2 separate regions of the Homo sapiens genome follow, and region 2 is linked to region 1. The links come from fine-mapping of genetic effects on gene expression. Tissue or cell type: whole blood. Region 1 holds a variant in brackets; the other region holds the start of a gene. All regions are shown on one strand. Distances are between the middles of the regions.

The links. PIP is the estimated chance that this variant, and not a neighbour inherited with it, causes the effect.
Region 2: FGFR2 starts here. The variant in region 1 is fine-mapped to the expression of FGFR2 in whole blood (TOPMed, PIP above 0.99).

The regions. Positions count from the first base shown.
Region 1 is chr10:121,432,136-121,440,240 of GRCh38, reverse strand. No RefSeq gene overlaps it. Among named protein-coding and RNA genes, the nearest start is that of FGFR2, 160 kb to the left of the region's middle. The variant C/T (reference allele first, on the strand shown) is at 4,140.
Region 2 is chr10:121,594,810-121,602,914 of GRCh38, reverse strand. FGFR2 (fibroblast growth factor receptor 2) reads left to right here and starts at 4,471. Exons shown (of 18, transcript NM_000141.5): 1 at 4,471-4,953. RefSeq lists enhancers at 5,265-6,000, 6,001-6,736.

The DNA.
Region 1 (8,105 bases):
ACTATTTTTCTTGTATTTTTATGATTTCAATGTATCATTTAATCTTTGATACAGATGGAATTTATTTGGCCATGTGGTGTGAGGTAGGGTTGCATTTTCTCCCCTAGATAATTGAGATATTAATAGTTACTTTTGAGGTCAGATATCCATTTCCCATAGAAAATAAAGCAATAAAAGTTCAATCCTAACATGAGGGAAGCCTAAACCCACTTCATTGCTTGGTCCAGGCTGGGAAGGCCATCTCTGCACTGGAACCAGAGGATGGCCTGTTCTTGGCCTTTCCCAGATGAGGAAGCGTAGAGCAGTGGTTAAGAGCAAGAGTCCAGAGGCAGGTGGACGGAGTGAAAGTGCTTCTCTCTCAATACCTAGTTGTATGACCCTGGTCAAATGTTCTCACCTCTTTAATGTGCTTTCTCCTCATCTGCAAAACAGGGATAATATCAGTACCTGCATCATAAAATGGTGGTGAGAAGTAAACAAAGTCCTGAATGTGAACTGCACTGCACAGTGCTTGGCAAGGGAACACAGGGGAGCTGCTGCCATTATCATTGTCACCATTACCCTCACCACCACTATTTGGACCCTTGGTGATGGCTCCAACCTCAGGCCTGCCATTTACTGATGTAGAAGTGACTGGAAAGTGCTGGCTTCCTTTCCTCTTTCCCAGGATAGAAAGCTGACCTGGGGCTCCTCCACCTGGCCTGGCTCCATCATTCAGACAGTCTTCTTCCAGGGCAGCAAATGACCTCAGATGTTTGCCCTGGGCCACCCAAGGGGAATTTTGGGCTTTCTTTGTGTTCCATCCATTTCTCAGTCTTTTCAATTAAGTGAAATCAAGTAAAAACACAAATCAAGTGATCCCTGAAGGGAGATGAGATCTCACCAGGGAGTACTAGAGAACTACAACCAAAGTAGCTTGGCATGTTGCAGGTGGTAAATGGAGGTTCAGAGTGTGAAAGTGAATATATAACCCCAAATTAATGATTTTATGGTAGACCAGGACCCCCTGGGCCCTGATTCTTTGAGCAGAGCTTCATCTTTGCAACCATGGCTCCCAGCCCCACTGTTTCTTCAGGTGGCAGTGTCAAGGGGAAAGGAGCCCTGGGTCCTTTTTTTTTATTTAAAAAAAATTTTTTTAGATGGCTCATAAAGCCACCTCCTTTTTTGAGGAAGGGGTATGAATCTCAGGGAGGGTTCCTGCTACAAGGCCACTTGGCATCACCCTTGGCTCTGCTTGGAGCAGCCTCCAGGCAGTGACATTTCAATTGCTGCAAGTCTGGAGCTGTATTATGCCATGTGTATCAGGAGAGTAATTGGATAAATTGGCCCTGGAGGGGTTTTGGTAACCATTACTTTCAGTTATTTTGTGATCCCCCCCACAGGGGAAGAGTGGGTCCTTTTCTTCAACTGCAGCATGAAGCAGGCTGTACGCAGCCCCATCACCTACCTCAGCTACAGAGCAGATCCGATGGCCTTAGGGGACCAAAAGCTGGGGAGCGGCTGGGTGTTGTACCTTTGCTTTCTCCTTTCTGCTGCAGGTGAACCCTGTACCACTTAAGCCTGATGTCCATGGCTGTTCTCAGCAACTTCCAAGCATTACTTTCAGTTATTTTGTGACCTTTGATGAGGCAGCTACTTCTTTCTCCTCCCAGCCTCAGATAAGGGATGACACAATTCAGAGAATGAGAGAGTCAAATTCTTGTGGTTTGGGCTTAAAAGGAGAACTAGATGAAGAGTTAGGTTATGGGGTCCCCATGCTCTCAGGACTGGGGAGATGCCCCAGAGAAGCAAGAGAGGTTGGGTTTAGCTGGGTCCTCCAGAGGGGACTGTGCATCCTGCCCAGGACCTGGGGAAATGGTGGTAAAACCAGAAACCCCAGGCAGGTGGCGGGGATCTGCGATCCAGGGCATCCACGCCTCCCATCGCCCGGGGTCTCTGGTTCTGGAGTAGAATGATCTGTCCAGTGATCTTAGGGAGGCTGACCTGAGGCTGCTTTACAGGAGGTCTCTGAATCCAGAGGTGAATTTAATTGTTAGATGACTTAAGGTTTAAACAATTTGAGACCCTCTTTAGAAAACAAAATTAGAAATGATAAATTTCAGATGAGATACAGGCAGTGTCTCTTTTGGGGGTGATGAAATGTTCTGGAATTTGTGTGATCATTGGACACGTCTGCAAATATACTACAAAACACCGAATTGTCCACTTTAAAAGGGTGAATTTTATGGCATGTGAATTAGTTATAATTAAAAAAATATATTGTTAAAAAAATCAAGTAAGGGTTCTAGAAGGGGCCCAACCTGAGAGGGCCTGCAGCAAAGCTTTGCCCACTTCACGGTGCAAACTCTGCAGTCCAGTATGGCTAAGAGTGGCGTGGGCAGAGGGCCAGAGGCAGGAGAGTCCTGCTAGTAGCTGCTGTGTGGACAGATGGCCCCCTTGAGGATCAGATCCTTCCCCTTCTCTGGCCTACCTCCCACAGCCAGGCCCGAGTGAGCCTCCAGGAACTTCCATGCAATCTTGGAGGAAACAGAGTGGGAATTAACGGGGATGAGGCTTCAGCTTTGTGGGATGGGACCAGGAAAACAAAGAAGCCACATGTCTTGTACTCCTGATTTTGACCCAGCCTGTGTATACAAGCTCTGGCTTTGAGGGGCTCAATGACCAGGCCTCTCTCCGGCCCTGCAGCCAGGAAGGCTGACCAGAGGAACCCTGCTTCTACCCCTGTGAGGTTTTTTTTTGTTTTGTTTTTTGGGTTTTTTTGGGGTTTTTTTTTTTTTTTTGGATGGAGAAAATGCCTGCAGTCTGGGCAAACAGACGAGGCTCTTTGGAGGCCAGGGATATGCCACTGTCATATTTATAATATAATGCTTGTTTATCTTGAATCGGACCCGGCTCTCTGCATAACTTCTGTTCCTCACATTTTGAAGATTTGGGCCCAAAACACATTTCAGGGAATAAGGAGAAAGCCCTTGTTTGAAAATGAACCAGCAAAATAAATCATTGTGTTTCTGAAACAATGCCCACTGCATACTTTTCAATTCTGAGCTTTGGCAGCAGCGTTTTTAAAAAGCACACACACAAAACCTATCACATAATTCTTTCTGAAAGGCTCATTCAGCAGGCCTGCCTTTCAGTTCCCAGCCCCCTCTTTCTTCTCTCTTTTTTTCATCTATTTTAAACCAGCCCTTCTGGTGAGAGGGCAAGTGTACATACAGCCTTCCATTGTGTTTGTAAAACAGAGCCATATCAGTTGAGAAGTAATGATAACATTTGTAGTTATGCAAGTGGAGATAACAGTAATCAGATCTCTGCTCTGGGCAAAAAATCCTAGTGGCCAGAACCTAACAATGGGTTAGGGTGTTATGTTGAAAGGTGAGGGAGTTGTGTTTGTGTGTTTTTGTTTTAGCAAAGCACCAAGCCCTTTGTTTTTCCTGCTGGAGGATCTCCTAGTTAAAGCCCTTCCGAAGCTGACCGGTTAAGGAGACCCTTTCCTAAATGGAGATCTGTGGTTCCTCTGCTCACTCGAGTTTTCCTGGCTATTTTTTCTGGCGTCAAGTGATTTAGGGTTTCCTCTGCTTTCCAGCAGGTAATGTGACCTCTCCAGATTAGAAGGAGCTGAGGCTAATGTATTCGCTCAAGCAGAGGCCAGTGGAATGATAGCATCAGTTTGCACTGCCATTTGGGTTTTTTAAAAAGAAAGGTGTTGTTCTGGAGTTGCCCTTATTCTTTCCAAATCTGATTCCCCTGTGGCGGTTTCTGTTGCATTTTTCCTCAAACAACATGCAAATATATTGATACCTGGGAGTTTAAACAACGGCAAGAACTGGAAGGTGCAATTTCCAAGAAATGCCAGGCCCAAAACAGCACCCAGCCGTGTCTGGATTTGACATAATGGAGACCAAGGTTCTCAAAATGTGAGCTGTATTTAGAGATCACGAAGTTAACTCCTGATTAGGTGTTGGATATCTGAGTTTCTCTGCTGGTTGGTTTCTCTGATTTCATTTTGGGGTTGCCATTTACTTATTTTGGTTGGGGGAAGTAGTAGCCTTGGGTTCTCCAGATGTAGCAAAGAATATCTTAGTGTAGACCAAGTGCCCCATCATAGAATGGCTGTCAAGAGACATATCCTGATTCTTATC[C/T]GACTTAGGCAGAACGTTGGATCCACAATAACCGTAATTCTCAATAAAATGGAGGCCCAGATATTTTTGTCTTCTGCTCTGAAGCGTTCCTAATTACATTAGAGATAAAATGCAGGTTTTTCTACTTTTCTTCTGGACACCTGAAGAAATGCTCCATTTTGCTCTCCTTTCCTACTCTTATTTACCCAGAAAAGAAACTGGAAAAAATATGAATGTAGACATGGAATTGCGAAAAGCAGCCACATAATCCATGAATTGCTTAGGGGTGGGGACTGGGGCGGCAGGAGGACTTGTATGAAGAAATCCAGTTCTGTTTTATTTTTCAAAGTTACATTTTCTTCCCTGTCTCCAGACATAAGTTTTTGAATTAAAAATTATACTTTGAATGATGTGCAGATGTTGGCATCTTAAAACCAAATACTGTTGTCCCGTGGGTTGCTAAGCAACCTGTGCAACCAAATCAGCTCGGGTTTGAAAATGGAAACAATTTCAAGAGATAAGAAAATGAAGCCCCATCCCTGAGTGTGAGGCGGAGGGCTGGGGTAGGATGGACTCTTCCCATTGCCTGCCCTGGTTAGAAGTGTGGCTCTTCTGGCTTTTGTGGCTTGAACATGCATTTTAATTTCATTGTGTCAATTCTCATTAACTGTCTATATGGAATCCCCTTTTTGGTTTTCAGAAATAATTAAGTAAAAAGCCCTTTCACTCACTGCATTTTTTGGCATTGATAAAGGCATTTGAGGCATTTCAGACAATGCGGGAGCGAGTATCAGAGCAAGTCTTTGAAGATGTTCTTTAAAGACGGCCCTGACAAACAGTGGCAAACAGACCAATTAACCCCAGAATCTAAGTCCTGGCTGCTTTAAACTCCCTTCAAAAGAAATTAGCTCTAATGTTAATAAAGTGGGTGTTAGACCATTTTGGAACATCAACTTCAACAGACTGAGTCAATTGGAATGGAATTATTACATCGTCTTGCCAAAAGAGGAGCCCAGGGCTGGTGTGAATTTTTGTTACAGTTACTGTCTGAAAATTAGAAAAAAATTCCAAACCTTAGTTGGAACAAAAACTCCCAAGTGGGATAACACAGGTTTATGTAATATTTTTTAAAATATTAGCTTTAAAAAACAAAAAGACTCAGGAAAGGTAGAAAAGAAAATGCCCAGAAGTGTGTCCTCGAATGTTGGGATTTGTGGTTAGAATGAGGATTGCATTCAGGCCCCGGCCCCGCAGTGACACGGCTCACTGCTACTTGGTCGCTTGCGCAGGAAGGCCTGGAGCTCAAGTTGTGACTCCTTGCTGATTTTTCAGATCCCAGGAGAGGAAGACCAAGAGCGGCAGGCTCCCCAGGCAGTGCCAACGAATGGCCGTGGCCTGGGTGCATATCGTCTTGCTTTGATGATTTCTTACAGAAGAAAAAGGAAACAAAAAAATTTTGCTGGGGGAATAGTTTTCATCCACTGGGACCCCATAGTTCGATTTTGCATCGTTTTGGTAAAATGTCCATTTCCAAGGGTTGTGTCTCACTCCTATAATCTCTTTCTTTGAGGAAAGACATAGATCTTTTAATCAATGCAATTGCTAAGAAAAGGTAAGATTTGTAGTGTTTGTCCTGCCAGCGTAACTGTTTGACAACAAAGGGTAGGAAGAAAAACGAGATCACGACTCTTGGGTGGCTGGGAAGTGTGGCAGAAGGGAATGGCATTCTGTGTGACAAGAAGCTCAGAGCACTGGCCTTATTGTCAGATGTGGGAGGAGGGATGTGTCTGGGACCACACAACAAACTCCTCTTCAGCTGTGGAGTGTGAGCCGCTGGGGCCTGGGTGTCAGAACTCAGCTTTAAGGAGCTACGTGGATAGTCTTCACTGATCCTTGTTGCTCTCTCACCACCTTCCCTAGCCAGAAGTGACCCAGGAGGGAAAACAAAGCTGGGAGGCGAAGTCACTTGCTGAGTCACGTGAATGATGTGTGCAGGATCCCAGTCCTCCTGCCTTAGCTGGTCCCATATTCTTCCTCCTGCACAGGGAGCGAGTGTCCCTGAGGTGTCGCCTGCTCAGGGCTTTGAAGCTGGCAATGGTGGGGTCAGGCTCTTGCATTTGTGAACAGGGCTTTTGCTCACCCTCTGCACAACACCCCGTTCTCAGGCTGGCTGTGGGTTAGAGGCTGGGGTCCCTCCTGGTTGGAGGCACTGGGTGGGAAGTAAGACTCTTGCCACTGTGGCTGAGGCCATCTTCCTCCATGCTCTCCACCTCTGCCTTGTCCAACCATGGTCTCTGACACCCAATAAATATGAAGCACTGACTTGGTAAGAAGAGGAAAAACCATCAATGCTAAAAGCATTGACTCTCCCTGTAGCTTTGAGAGGCTTTAAGGTAGTTTTTCTTTGTTTGGTTTTGTTTTTTGAGATGGAGTCTTGCTCTGTCACCAGGCTGGAGTGTAGTGGCGTGATCTCGGCTCACTGCAACCTCCGCCTCCTGGGTTCAAGCGATTACCTTACCTCAGCCTCCTGAGTCACTGGGACTACAGGCGCCTGCCATGACACCTGGCTAATTTTTTGTATTTTAATAGAGATGGGTTTCACCATGTTGGCCAGGATGGTCTTGATCTCCTGACCTCATGATCTGCCCACCTTGGCCTCCCAAAGTGCTGGGATTACAGGTGTGTGTCACCACGCCTGGCCCATTTTTCTTTTTTAATCTAGGAAAAATGAAGATCCTGGTTTGGATTCACTTGGGAGAACTGGGCCATCTTAGTCTCATTTTGGCATCCTTGCCCTTTCTTTGCCTGCTCTGTGGGGGATGCCCAGTCCTCTGTAGAGTGGTTCATCAATTCAGGTGTCCCAAAAGGTGGATTCCTTTATTTAGCTAAATTCTCAATTTAATGTCTATTTTGAACTTCAGGATGGCAGAAATCAATTCTTTGTCAATTGAGAGAAACGTTCCTCTGTTTCTGGGGTTGGGCCTGAAAATACAGGGGCTTATGAGGTCACGGGGCCAGGCCCTTAAGAGTGACCTATTCATGCTGATGTCTACTGAGTCGTCCATTGCCCCTTCTGGTCCATGAAGGTTGCAGCTCAGCTGGCCTCTTTCCCTTTCGTAAGTCTCCCCCAGGGGTAAAGGTTTTCTGTGCCATGTCATGGTGCCAAGGAAACATCTGCTGCCCTCACACCTATCTAAGGAGCCAGGGCTCTGTCTGCCTAGACAAAGTATAGTCATCTTTTTGAAGTTTGGCCACATTCTTGGGTGCTCCACCCAGGACACGGTGCATCGGTTCTTCCACCCAGGGTTCCAGTAATCATTCTTAGATTTTCTCATCTTTCCTCTACACTCATTTCTTAGAGTATGTGTGTATGGGAGTGTGGTTTGGGATTCCTCCTTAAGGACCCACAGTTGTCTCAGTTAACTTGCCTTCTAACTCCCTTTTGCCCAACGTGGGAATCCATCCAGTATCAAGGGCACTCAAACTCCTTGTTCATGCCCCAGTCTGGTCCTCTCAGATCTAAGCTTTTGAGGTTCCCTTTCCTTCTGCTTTCTGACCTAAAAAATTATTACACACACCAGATGCGGTGGCTCACGCCTGTAATCCCAGCACTTTGGGAGGCCGAGGCGGGTGGATCACCTGAGGTTAGGAGTTCGAGACCAGCCTGACCAACATGGTGAGAAACCCCATCTGTACTAAAAAATACAAAAATTAGCCGGGCATGGTGGCAGGTGCCTGTAATCCCAGGTACTTGGGAGGCTGAGGCAGGAGAATTGCTTGAATCCTGGAGGTGGAGGTTGCAGTGAGCCGAGATTGCGCCATTGCACTCCAGCCTGGGCAACAGAGCAAGACTCTGTCTCAGAGAAAAAGAAAAAAAATGGTCGTGTATGGTTGCTCACGCCTGTAATCCCAGCACTTTGGGAGGCCCAGGCCGGGGGATCATGAGGTCAGGAGATCGAGACCATCCTGGCTAACATGGTGAAACCC
Region 2 (8,105 bases), 160 kb before region 1:
CCAGCTACTTGGGAGGCTGAGGCAGGAGAATCACTTGAACCCAGGAGGCAGAGGTTGTAGTGAGCCAAGATCACGCTACTGCACTCTGGATGACAGAGCAAGACTCCATCTCAAAAAAAACCAAAAAACAAAAACAAAAACAAAGGCAAAAACAAAACAACCAAAAAAACCCGAACAAATAAAAAAACAAAAACAAAGAAAAACTAAGTGCTTGTCACGTCCTAACTCATTTCATCCTCTTAGTGATCCTATTAAAGATCTAGGAGAGGCCGGGTGCGGTGGCTCACGCCTGTAATCCCAGCACTTTGGGAGGCCGAGGCGGGTGGATCACGAGGTCAGCAGTTCAAGACCAGCTTGGCCAAGATGGTGAAACCCCATCTCTACTAAAAATACAAAAAATTAGCTGGGCGCGGTGGCAGGCACCTGTAGTCCCAGCTACTCAGGAGGCTGAGGAAGGAGAATCATTTGAACCCTGAGGGTGGAGGCTGCAGTGAGCCGAGATCGTGCCACTGCATTCCAGCCTGGGTGACAGAGTGAAACTCTGTCTCAAAAAAAAAAAAGAAAAAAAAAATCCAGGAAATAAGAACCATTATTTTCCCCATTTTACAGCTGAGAAAATGGAAAACTCAGATAACTCAAGCAACTGGCCTGAGGTAACACAGCGTTTGTTTGTTTGTTTGTTTGTTTTTTTTGAGACGGAGTTTCTCTCTTGTTACCCAGGCGGGAGTGCAATGGCACGATCTCGGCTCACCGCAACCTCTGCCTCCTAGGTTCAAGTGATTCTCCCGGCTCAGCCTCCTGAGTAGCTGAGATTACAGGCATGTACGACCATGCCCAGCTAATTTTGTATTTTTAGTAGAGACGGGGTTTCTCCATGTTGGTCAGGCTGGTCTTGAACTCCTGACCTCAGGTGATCCACTTGCCTCGGCCTCCCAAAGTGCTGGGATTACAGGTGTGAGCCACCATGCCAGGCCTTTTTTTGTTGTTTTTTGAGAGGGAATCTTGCTCTGTCACCCAGGCTGGAGTGCAGTGGGGCGATCTCAGCTCACTGCAACCTCAGCCTCCTGGGTTCAAGCGATTCACATGCCTTAGCTTCCAGAGTATGTGGGATTACAGGCATGCGCCACCACAAGCGGCCAATTTTTGTGTTTTTAGTGGAGACGGCATTTCACCATGTTGGTCAGCCTGGTCTCGACTTCCTGCCTTCAAGTGATCCGCCTGCCTCGGCCTCCCAAAGTGCTGGAATTACAGGCGTGAGCCACTGCGCCCGGCCACAGGTCACAAAGCTATTGAGTAAAGAAAGCTGCATCCAGCCTCTCACCTTAAGAAAGCCATTCCCCTTTGCCTCAAAGTGAGGCTATACTTCCAGAAGGACTTTGTCTCCGGGGAAGCCTTGGCTTTGGAATTCAGGCCCAGTTCTAAGTTTAAAATCATTGATGCTGTTCAGTAGTGGGATCAATGATTTTGCTTCACTTAAATGCCACAAGCTCCCTGAAGATGGGCTGGAGCTGTCACAGCATCCAGCCCCTCCCCTTACCCAGAAGTAAATACTCTTATCATAGTCCTCCGACTATTCTATATCCTTCCATTTGAGTGCTTCTTTTATGCCGAGGGCACTATTGAGATGTAGCTTAGAGAATGAAATTCCTGGTGTTGCAGGGAGCTCAGATCCACCCGGGAAGGTTCATGAGCACTTCATGTCAGCAGCCTTTATTTCATCTAACGTTTCCATAGAGTGAAGGAACAGCCACCCATTACAAAACAAATTATTAAAAGAAAAATTCCAAATCTTCAAAGGAGAGAGGCCCATGGTAGTGAGCGCTCCCACCCCCTTCTCCTTTCTCTTCCCATCACCAACGGGCTAGCAGCACAATTTGTTTCTTGAAACTTTTGGGGGCATCGGAGTTCTGGTGTCCTCATTTTTCTTCCTTCCCATTGATGTATCATTACTAGAGTGAAAAAAGAAGGGCGTCTCGAGGGCTTTTGAAAAAAAAAAAGGGTGACTACTCAAGACATTTTGTAAAGGGGGGAAAATTGCGAAGAAAAGAGACCTCAGTAGGGGGTGGAGGAACTGTGAATGTGTCCTTGTCTGGCGGTTCTTTCAGCTGAAACCTGGTGCTGGCGTTCGCAGTTCAGTTCAAACTGTCACCTTTAGTTCTTACTGGCTTTTCTGCCCTTGCCCCAGAACCTCAACAGATTGGGGCTTATTTACCTATTCACACTCCGCCGTGGAAGCTCATTAATAGGCTTTATTAGCAACACCATTCATGGGAGGCCATTGACGAAAGGGGTTCCAGCCACTTGAAGAGGGAAGAGAAAAGAAAAAACTGTAAAGAGATTATTTTCTCATTCAGAAGCCTCAGTGGTGTGAAGGTTTTCCTGGATGGTCTGAGGTCACTTGAAGACTAAATATGGGGACATAATTGATTTTTTAAAAATAATTCTAAACATACTTCCCCCCCCTCCTCAAAACTGAAGAGTTTCCTGTTGTGGTCTTGTGGGTTTCAGTCCCTTATATATGAGCCCTCTTTAGGGAATAAGGAGCTTTTGATAGATTGGTGTCTTTTCATTTCTATAAAAAATACATTCTGCAAACTGTGCCTGGACATGAAAGTAGGTGTTCTTATTTGTCATTTTCAGCGGAAAGCTTCCTTTCCATTCAACATGCATAAAGCTATTGATGAATGGGGGATAGGGACAGCGGCTTCCTGCACCATTAATTTATGTGAGAATGTGTTAACAGCATTTTCAATGGCTGATGGATGCGGTGTAGGATGGGAAAGGAACTGTCCTGAGACACTCGAGTTTCCCATTGGTGGGGAATATAAAGATGTAAGTGGCAACCTGCGAGCAGGCAGACACGTTCAGCTGCATCCCTTTTCTGAGAACTTGAAAACATACTGCTATCAGAACAACCCGTGTGGGAGTGAATGGCTAAGTGTCAACCTGGGCTGAGGTGTCCGTTAATGTATAGGCTCTGGGGCTAATCCAGGTTAGAGGACTTGACCAAAAACATACCCTCCCACCAAGCATATAGAGGGATAATTTTGCTTAAGAACCAGTTTTTATTTTGTTGCTATCAAATTTCCAAAATACAATGTTATAGCCTTTTGCCTGAGGCAGTTAAATGGATTTCTTACTTGTGTGGCTTTTAAATAACTTGCATAAACGTTTTCTGTGCTATATTTGTGAATAAAAATGATTTTCTAATCATGTAGCACCTTGAAAAATATTTTTGTAAATGTTATGAAGGGTGCAATGTTAGTGACACAGGTGCAAATATGTTTCTAAATCCAGGAAAAGTCTGTTTTCCAAGTCAGGTTTGTTCTCAATGCTTCATCTATCTTCAGGCCTCAAAAGGATTCTAAAGCATTTCTGGGTTTAGTGACCTTTTCTAAAGAAAAATAATTAAGGTTTTAATCTATATGGTCTTGAACTTAAGCACGGCTGCTCAGGAGCTGGATGAATAAGGAGGGAGAAAAAGCATATTTAAAATAAATTATTCCGAAGACACGGCTTAGTGAAAAGGTAAATGGACATAGGAACTTTAACCAGTTACAGCTTGGTGTGCAGTTGAAGAATCAGATTTTGCATTTATGATTTTTAATCTAAGATTCAGAGGGAGGAATTACTTTGTTCAAGGTCTATTTATGGTAGAGTTGTCTTTAGACTCCTTTGAATTTCTTTTTATTAATCCAAACATATATTATTAAACACTTTTTTTTTTTGATGCAATTTTGGCTTTTTCTGAGAGAGCCACATTCAAAGTCAGGCTGTCCTAGTAGCCAGCTGTGTGGTCCTAGGCAAATTACTTAACCTCTCTGATCCTGTTTCCTTATCAGAAACTGGGAATAGTACTCTGCAGGGTGGTTGGGCAGATGAAATAGAATCACCTATGTAGTGTGACCCTCCCATAGTAGGGCCTCCATTAATATTCAGTTTTTTCCTCTCATTTCTATTGTTTAGAAGGACAGAAACATGCAATGTCCTGCGAACATTTCCAAGTGGCTTCCTCTCCTCCAAAAGCTTCAGCTGCCTGGCAACCCTCCCCGCAGTATCAAGCAGGCGCATTTTAAAGTCTCTTTAGCGGGAGGGCAGGGTTAGAGCCTTCGGTCATTTGTTTTCTAACTTGACATAAAACAACGTAACGCAGTCGCTCAGCGAGCCGTTGGCCAGCCTCGCTCGCCCGGGGAGGAGGGAGGAGGTGGCGCGGGGCGCGGGACCAGGCCTTATTCGGAGGCTGTCGCTGCATCCCTACGGCCGCATCGCGGCCGAGCCCTCGCCTCCCGGGCCGGTGTCTCCGGCTGCTCGGAGGCGTCGGGAGCCGCGCGGGACTCGGGGCGGCCCGGGCGCGCGGCGCTGATTGGCAGAGAGGGCGCCGCCGTCCAGGAAACGGCTCGGGTTTCAGTGGGGGCGTGACCCGCCGCGAGGAGGCGGGGGCGGCGGCGGCGGCGCGGGCGGCGGCTGGAGGAGAGCGCGGTGGAGAGCCGAGCGGGCGGGCGGCGGGTGCGGAGCGGGCGAGGGAGCGCGCGCGGCCGCCACAAAGCTCGGGCGCCGCGGGGCTGCATGCGGCGTACCTGGCCCGGCGCGGCGACTGCTCTCCGGGCTGGCGGGGGCCGGCCGCGAGCCCCGGGGGCCCCGAGGCCGCAGCTTGCCTGCGCGCTCTGAGCCTTCGCAACTCGCGAGCAAAGTTTGGTGGAGGCAACGCCAAGCCTGAGTCCTTTCTTCCTCTCGTTCCCCAAATCCGAGGGCAGCCCGCGGGCGTCATGCCCGCGCTCCTCCGCAGCCTGGGGTACGCGTGAAGCCCGGGAGGCTTGGCGCCGGCGAAGACCCAAGGACCACTCTTCTGCGTTTGGAGTTGCTCCCCGCAACCCCGGGCTCGTCGCTTTCTCCATCCCGACCCACGCGGGGCGCGGGGACAACACAGGTCGCGGAGGAGCGTTGCCATTCAAGGTAATCGCCGCGCAAGACGCCTCGGGGAGCTTCGCCAGCCGGGGACGTGGGCGCCACGGGAGCCCGGGACGCCGGGTGCACCGTCCTCCGGGCGGGGGGCGCGGAAGGACTAGCATTGTGGAGGACGCTCCGTGTCCTCCCTCTGTGGCTGCATAGGTGATGGGGGAGGTGGGTGCGTGCTGACGGCCGGCGTTCTGGAAGTTCTGCCTCTGCTACCCCCATCCAGATGCTGACATCTGCTTCTGGCGTTGACGCCCCCCTCCCTGTCAAACCCTGGCGGGCGCATTCCCGCTGACTGGGCGCGTTTCTCCGACCCCAGAGCAGACGGGCGGAAGGTTCGCCTGCCCGTGGCACAGCCCCGCAGGCCGGTTCCCGGGGTCATCTCCGAGGTGCCCCATCCGTGTGTCCTGGGAACTTCCGTACCATCCAGGCCCTGCGGAGACCCCTTTTTCGGGAGGGGGCCGCTGGGGTGGGGCCGGTGACATCCCGTAGGGGTGGCGATGGCCAGGGGTGGCACTGCTGGGGAGGCGACGGCTCCGGTGCCTGGGCGCCCCTCGCCCGCAGCCGCCGTCGGCGCTGGAGGGAGCGCAGTGCGCCTGGGGCTAGGGGGCGAACTGGACCGACTTTTTCTAGTTCGCCTGCCTGCTCTGCCGCAGCGGCTGGGAGATGTCGAAAGCGCAGGCGAGTTCTAACTTGCGCGCTCATTTTTTTCGGCCACGGGGCCGCGCTGGGGAAAAAAGCCGAGGGCCCTGCGTGGCGCTGGCTCCGACCCTCGCGGACCACGGACCTGGCGCAGGAGGCCCGCTCGGGGACCACCAGCCTCCGTCGCTCTCCTCGCACCCCGCTCCCTTGCAGACCGTTCTCCAGACCCTCCTTCCTTTCTCCCAATTCAATAAAACCTACCCTTAAAGGCAAACCTGCTTTCAAACTCAGGGCACCCATTATGTGTTTGGTGTGAAACGCTATCAACATTTAAAACTCCATTGTCTCCCTGGTCCCAAATCCCTGTAAATCTTCCACCGGGCTCGACTCATTTTCATCTGAAAAGCCTGTTTAGTTTGAATAGAAAAGCAATCAGGCGCCCCTCTCTCTTTCCCTGGAATGTCAATTAAAATGCAGATTTCTCTGAGCTCTTTAGCGCCCCGAGAAGGGGGAGAAAAACAGGATATTTCAGGCAAACAAATGAAAGAAGTGCTGCCCTGAAAGGGGGTGGTGGTGGGGAGCACCCCCAAGCTGCTCGCAAGTTCTGATTGGACGCAAGCATTAAACCGGGAGGGCTTTGTGGTCCTGGGTCAGTGTGTGTTTTTTGAGATTTCAATTTGTTGAGGAATTTCCCCCTAGCCTTGACCCCTTGACAGCTCCCGCTCCTACTCAGTGCTGGGGAGAAGTAGGGAGGCCTTAAGCGAAGAGATGGGTCTGCACTTTGGAGGAGCCGGACACTGTTGACTTTCCTGATGTGAAATCTACCCAGGAACAAAACACCAGGTGATCCCAGTGGCCGAGCCAGCAGTGGACAGATCACCCCTTAGGTGGAAGCCCAAAGCGGAGGGCACTGTATTGGTCTGCCTTCTTGGAGGGCGGGGGTTTTGGGAATGTCATGGTAAATTGAAGAGCCCAGCACAGGCCTGGCATGGGGACCGCTCCGCAGCCAAGCCCTTCCTGCTTGTCACTCTGCCTGTCTTTGGGGGCAGGCTTGTGCCGAGGTGAAAATGGACCGGGGGGCGGGCGGCCGAGAAGAGCCATCCATCAGAGGGAGGGTGACAACTCCTCCCGCGTGCAGGCTGAGAAGAGAGTTCCCTTTCAAGGGGAAAAATAAACACGCTGGGGCTTTCACTGGGGCTCAGACTCCAGGAAGGATTATGGTATTGAAGGCAGGAAGCCGGGATTGTGGCCGCCAGCGGCATGCTGGGCCTGTATTCCCAACACCGAGCCTGGGGACCTAATTATCCTGCCTAGGAGGTCGCACCATACTTTTGTCCACTGGTGTGAGGAACTGTGCAGACCTGTCGCCTTAGGTCTCCGCCTTCCAGAGTTTTGGGGAGGGGGCTGCCGTGGGGTTTGGACCTGGAAATGGCTGAAATGCAAATTTCTAGTGCCAGCTAGCGGGATGATGGAACGGCTTGAGATTCAGCGGAGCGCCCTGTCCACCTTTCTCTGCCTGGAGCCAAGGAGGCTCCTCTGGGCAGGGACAGGTGGGCGAGCAGGCCGGGGAAGGAGCCTGGGGTGAAACCTCTGCGAGGACTTAGGATTGTTCCTGAAGTCGTGTTAGAGGTAGAAAATTCCCCTGCATTCTGCAAATGCTTAGTAAATCAATGAGAATGTTTGTGTACTTTCCTCCCACATGTATGTAGAAATAGATCCGAAATTATCTTCTGAGGCTCTTGACTAAGAGGAAAGAAAAGTTAAGAGGAAAAATCTTTCAAGCTATCTGAAAGCACATGCACACACCGTGCACGCACACACCATGTACACACACACACCGTGCATACACACACACCATGCACGCACACACACCGTGTACACACACACACACTGCACACATACTTTTCTTGCTTTTGCTGTGAATCACACCGTTTCACCTGTGCTATCTTTGAAGCAGAGGTTTTCTTTATTCCTCCTTTGGAAATGATGTGGCATATTCTTTTCCCTCCTCCATTTTTGTCCTCAGTCAAAGCTAAAAGGAGCAGTTTTTATGATGAGATTTGGGGAGGCTCCAGCAGTGTTGAAATCCTATGACATAACTTGAAACATCGAGTGGGTACATAAAAAATGTAGAGTTTAGAGATTTTTGTATTAAAGGCCTCCCTGCCACCCCCAGTCTTAGAAAATGTGGTTCATTCCTGTGGTTCACAGAATCTGAAGCCTGAGATTGATGAGCCCCTTCTTGTGATTGTTTTAATCATTCTCTAAAGTTTGTGCATTTTACTGTACCCTTAGTCACAGAGAGTACTGAGTGAATTTAAAGTTGCTTGGAATATATTAAGCTTTCTTGGAAAATTCTCTTTCCCTTGGATCAAATGGGTGAACAGAATATTAAGTTGAGTGTCCTCTTCTAACTTATACTCTGAAAATTTAGCCAGTAGGTTTGCATATGGAAAGTTATTGGTCCAATCACATACCATGACTATAATTTACATAATTTACATCATCAT